Regions from separate parts of the Homo sapiens genome. Here region 2 is linked to region 1. The links come from fine-mapping of genetic effects on gene expression. A gene starts in region 1. The other region holds a variant in brackets. All regions are shown on one strand. Distances are from middle to middle. Region 1 holds the start of DDX5 (DEAD-box helicase 5). Region 2 has its middle 130 kb from the start of LINC02563.

Region 1 (2,891 bases):
TCCCCACGCCCATTTCTCACAGCTGGCCAAACCATGACAACTGGTTTGTACGCAGTCCTTGTGAAAAGGATGAAAGCGTCCTAGACAACCAAATTAATTCGCTCTTCAAAAGCGGTGCTAGACAAAGCCCATGACTCTAGAGGGCACTGAAGAGAAAAAAGCACAACTATTCTACAGGGGCATATTCTACTATTCTGCAGGGGCATAATAAATCTTAAGAATGCTGTTCCTTTAAAGACCAATACAAAAGCAGGTACGACCTCAGGGCCCATAGTGCAAGGGCGGAGGGCACACGGACAGCGGCTAGACGCCCCACAGAAAGACAAGTCCGGGGACGACCCTTCTGACCGCTCTTTTTACAGCCAGGACCCAAGTGTCCTACCGGCCTCGCCCCAGTGCCTCTCTCTCTCCCACAGCATACTGCTGTTCCACGGCCTCGAAGCGAAGAGGTGGTGAAGCTGAGAGACCCTATCCAGGGAACCCGCCAGCGCGACGCGGCGTCTGAAGGTCACGAGCCCCGCCGACAGCCCAGACCCAGTCCGGGCTAGCCCGAGGCCTCCCTGGAGGTGGACGGTTTCAGTCCACACATACTGGGACCCCAGGGAGACACTCACCAGCATCCGAGCCTGCCATGTTTCAGAGGCAGGTCGCCGCCGGACTCCGACGCGGCCGGGAAGGCGACGGTGTCCTGGAAGGACCGATCCACGCAGACCCGACACTGGGGCGCGGACGCACGAACCAAAGCGCGGGGAAGGAGGCGTGAAAGAAGGACGGACGTTAAAAGAGCTTCTCGCCGCTGATTGGTCATCAGAGGAGCACTTCCTTTCACAGGACGTGAAACGGGGGCGGTTTGGGAAGTTTAGAGACCATTCTCCGCCGACCAAAACCCGTCAAAGGATTATCAGACACGCGGGTCGGACGGTCCACATCAGCCGGCAGCCCGGGCGGGTCCCGGGGTGCGAGCAGCGCACTTCCGGTGAGCTATTTCGTTTTGTATCCCTCCGCCGACGTCAACGGGAAAGTAGTGCGGACCGCTCTCTCGGTGGTCCGGGGTGGTACAGCCACGTGACAACGCCAGGCCCCGCCTTCCCCCTCTTTTGGTTACAGACGTGAGGGCTCTTTGGAGACGTAAACATCTCCGAGTGGCGAGGGTGGGCGGGGCTGGGCTTGGGAAAGGGCGGGGTGGCTTGCTTGAGGTGTGGAAAGACCAGAAGAAGGTGAGGTCAAGAGAGTGCAGAATGAGGCATTCCAATGGTGGGTGGGCCCTGACCTGAGAGAGTGGCGCGGGGAGGGGTGAAAGCGCGGCGATCCTGGAACGCCAGCGGGCGTTGCGGCCTATGCGCGAGGGGCGGGGCGATTAGGTCATAGAGCGGCTCCCAGCGTTCCCTGCGGCGTAGGAGGCGGTCCAGACTATAAAAGCGGCTGCCGGAAAGCGGCCGGCACCTCATTCATTTCTACCGGTCTCTAGTAGTGCAGCTTCGGCTGGTGTCATCGGTGTCCTTCCTCCGCTGCCGCCCCCGCAAGGCTTCGCCGTCATCGAGGCCATTTCCAGCGACTTGTCGCACGCTTTTCTATATACTTCGTTCCCCGCCAACCGCAACCATTGACGCCATGTCGGGTTATTCGAGTGACCGAGACCGCGGCCGGGACCGAGGGTGAGTTTGGGAGCCGAGCTGTCAGGCCTGGCGGGTGGGGGGATGGGAGGGCGGGTCAGGGTGGCGGCCGGCGGGGGCTTTGCGGCTTGGACTTGGCCTTTCCGGGCTATCTTGGGACTTCCTTTCCCGAAGGCTTGCGCCATTTTGATATTCACGTCACAGTGATTGGAAGAGATTTGACGGTGTAGTGTCTTCAAGCTTGCTTTTTGTGTGGGGATTGGGGAGCTGTCGGGGCGGCTGCCATTTGGTAGCTGTTGAGGGAGTTGAGAGGGAGCGTATTGTGCGGATGAAAGCGGGACGCTTCGAGGCAGACGAAGGAACATCTGTTAGGTGCGGCGTTTCGGGAGGTGTTTTTGGGGTGGCCGGGCATTCTGTGGGAGCGAGGGGACCACTTCCAAAGCCCTGGTGCTGTTGGGGTAGGAGGGCGGCCGGCATCAGCCATGTGGCTGAGTCGCGAGTACAAAATGCCGGCCTCGGACATGGCGGCGGCGCCTTTGTTACCCCGCCCGGCGGAGGAGCTCAAAATGGCAGCGTCGAGAAAATGTGGCGCAGAGAGAAATGCGAGACAAAGGGGGAAGCGCCGCCCCAGCGGGAACGCCGCCCGGCCGACTCCGCCCGGGCCGGGACTCCTCCCCCGGTAGTCGCCGGCTCCTCCTTTTCTTTTTTCCTGCGTTATATAATTTTGATTCGTTGATCCGGAGCTCTACCGCGGCGTTCCCCCAGCTGGGTTTGCTAGCAGAAGTGTTTCTGAGAAAACCCTTGTTCTGTTATCGCTGACTGTACTGTTTAGGTTCTTACCACTAAAGCTGTTTGGTTCCAAAACGGCCATATGAGTAACATCGTCGTGATGCTCTTCGGTTCATGTAGCCTTGTTATTGCTGATAGTGAATTGCTAGGCTGGTGGGGAAGATTACAGTAACCACAAGAAGTGGTGTGTGCCAGAATCCCAAATTCTGGCATGTGGGTGACAAGTTTCCGACATGATAAATCCCCGGCTTCCGACATGATAAATCCCAGGCTGTTTACATGACCTAAGTAATGTGTACTTGGGACTACGGGAAATGTTAACTGTGGCTGTTGAGAGAGAGAGAGATTTTCACGAAGGACAGTGCTAGGTTTACCTCTCGAAGTCTGTTTTCAGTGGTTTTTAGCTTGTGCCAATGGATGACAAATCTATACAGAAACCTGGGTATAGCCATTTGAAAATGTGAATAACGTTTTTTTTCATTCCAGGTT
Region 2 (2,912 bases), 820 kb before region 1:
AGTAGGCACGACTGTCCCTTTGTTCTTCCAGCCCCCAGGAGCAGAATTTCTCCCAGAGCCTGAGGAGTCAGCCACAAGCCCTGTCTTCAGCCTTTCAAAAAAAAAAAAAAAACCTCATTTTTTTCTAATTATAAGCACTGTACACATGTTCATTGTAGAAATCTGGACATTACAGAACATCAAAAAATTATTTTAAAAATTATTCATCATACTCTCCTGGGGAGGTGAACTCTTAGCATTTTATGTATACTCTCCCTCTCTCAATCGACTTACCTCTAAGTTTATGTGAGGATGTATTTTATTTTATTTTTTACATAAGACTTAATACCTGGAAGGATTTATTTTGTTATCCATACATTTATACATACAACTATATCATACTTATTAATAATATAAGTAACAACAAATATTACGTGATGTAATATTTGTTCAAGTGTGCATGTTTTTCTTTTTCAGTTAACAGTATCTAACAAACATTTTTCTTATCATGGACTCTTCTAAAATATCCATTTAAATGACTATAATATTCCATCATATTGTTCAGTTTCTTAAACTGGGGTCCACAGTCCCTGGAGGATTTATAGGGATTCATAAGTTCACTCTGGACATTTTTTTAATTCTTATTTTTTTGGGAGGTCAAGGCAGGTGGATCACCTGAGGTCAGGAGCTCAATACCAGCCTGGCAAACATGGTGAAGCTCCATCTCTACTAAAAATACAAAATTAGCCAGGCATGGTGGTGCATGCCTGTAATCCCAGCTACTTGGGAGGCTGAGGCAGGAGAATCACTTGAACCCGGGAGGCAGAGGTTGCAGTGAGCCGAGATCACACCGCTGCACTCCAGCCTGGGCAACAAGAGTGAAACTCCATTTCAAAAAAAATAAATAAAAATAACTTCTCATTTTTTAAAGATATAAGTAGGAATTACCAGGAGAAAGAATTAGGGAAGAGCCTCCAGAGAAGGTAGAGAGCCCATGCAATAGTGTTGATGTATGAAGGAACAGGTATCAGATATTTAGGATGGTCTGTTGGGGGCACAGGGGAAAGGACCTTGCCTGATGGGGACTGGTGGAAAATGAGTTTATTTTGGTAGAACGGGAGCCATGTCAGGCTTTCCACTTCCTTCCTGCTGCATTGACAGGTATTGAGGCATTTTGTGGCAGGACATGGGCCATTTGCCTCTTTTCAATAGCACTGACCAGTAAGTCTTGTAAGACCTTGTCATATTTATTCATTCATTTTTTATTCATTCATTCATTCACCAAGAATTTGTGGAGAATGTATCAGCTGTTACTGTGCGATAGATTACCCCCAAAATTTAGCAACAACGATAAACTTGTATTATCTTTTATAATTTCTACAGCTCAGGAATTCAAGAGCAGCTTAGCTGGGTGGTCCCAGCTCAGGGTCCTCCCTGAGACTGTAGTCAAGAGGTCAGCTGGGGTTACAGTTGTCTGAAGGCTTGATTCAGCCTGGAGGATCTGCTTCCAAGTGGCTCATTCACTCA[C/T]ATGTTGGCAGGAGACTTTGGTTCCTTGTCATGTGACCTCTCCATAGGGTTCCTTGAGCACCCTCACACCATGGCAACTGGCTTCTCCTACAGCAAGTGATTTAAGAAAGAGCAATGAGGAAGCTGCAATATGTTTTACAACCTTGGCTAAGTAGTCACTATCATTTCTGCAATATCATGTTCACTCATGGGCCAGCCTTATTCAGGTTGGCCCTACTCAGTGTGGGAGGGGTTTGCACTGGGTGTGAGCCTCAGAAAACAAGAATGATTGGGGACCATCTTGGAGGCTGGCTATCACAGAGTGGTGAGCAAGGCCAAGTACTAAGGACAGAAATTGAATTAGATGTTCTTGCACTCAGGAAAATTACTGTGCCATTGATGTGCACAATTGGAGCTCCAGTTGGAGGTCCAGTTGGAGATCACCTTAAAGGTACAGACAAATGCTCCAATTGGAGGTCACCTTAAAGGTACAGACAAAAAGGGTTGGTCTCAGCCTAAAGGCCTTCTCTGCTCACTGTGAGCCAGCATCACTGCACTGCCAACAAAGGCTCATGAGCAGAACCCTCTTGAGCAAAACCAAGGACCAGACTCATGGTCTGCAACAAATTTGGTTCCATTTTGTTCAACCACAGGACAGTCAGTATGAAGTGATATGAAGTAAAAGAGGACCAGGAGGTCAGGCCCTAGCTCAGATTCCCTGCCTAACCTAGAGGTCATCTCACTTCCTGTTCTGACAGGTGCTTTTAACACTTCCTAGAGCAGCCTTAGGCCTACATGAGCATAGGAAAAGACTCTGGACTCCAAAGATTCTCTTCCTTCTTTGGCAACAGTAACATGTACGTTTCCTCCCATCATTGGAAGACAATTGATCTCCCGTGCTTTGTTTTGAGTTAGGCTTAAGGGCGCAGGTTCTTTCCTTGGTTCCTTGGTTCTTTCCTTCCTTCCTTCCTTCCTTCCTTTGTTCCTTGGTTTCTTGGTTTCTTTCTTTCTTTCTTGGTTTCTCTCTCTCTCTCTCTCTTTCTTTCTTTCACAGGGTCTTACTCTGTTGCCAAGGCTGGAATGCAGTGGCATGATCACAGCTTACTGCATCCTTGACCCCCTGGGCTCAAGCGATCCTCCCACCTCTACTTCCCTAATAGCTGGGACTACAGGCATAAGACACTACATCCAATTAATTTTTATTCTTTTTTTTTTTTAGAGATGGGGTCTCCCTATGTTGCCCGGGCTGGTCTAAAACTACTGGCCTCAAGCCATCCTCCAACCTTGGCCTCCCAAAGTGCTGGGATTACTGGCATAAGCTACCACACCTGGCCCAGGTTTCTCCTGTTTCAGAACTTGGGAGTGGAAAAAGGTCGCATAACTTTTGAGAAAATCACGACTATCAAAGTATGAAATCACTGAACTTC

Evidence for each region. PIP is the estimated chance that this variant, and not a neighbour inherited with it, causes the effect.
Region 2: its variant is fine-mapped to the expression of DDX5 in gastroesophageal junction (GTEx, PIP above 0.99).

The regions. Positions count from the first base shown.
Region 1 is chr17:64,504,840-64,507,730 of GRCh38, reverse strand. It overlaps DDX5 (DEAD-box helicase 5), which reads left to right and starts at 1,442. Exons shown (of 13, transcript NM_004396.5): 1 at 1,442-1,655; 2 at 2,889-2,891. The coding sequence starts at 1,612. It overlaps CEP95 (centrosomal protein 95), which reads right to left and starts at 754. Exons shown (of 20, transcript NM_138363.3): 1 at 615-754. The coding sequence starts at 633. RefSeq lists enhancers at 1-580, 562-651, 852-1,091, 1,792-1,921, 1,982-2,191 and 1 more and a silencer at 2,282-2,351.
Region 2 is chr17:65,327,446-65,330,357 of GRCh38, reverse strand. No RefSeq gene overlaps it. Among named protein-coding and RNA genes, the nearest start is that of LINC02563, 130 kb to the left of the region's middle. The variant C/T (reference allele first, on the strand shown) is at 1,507.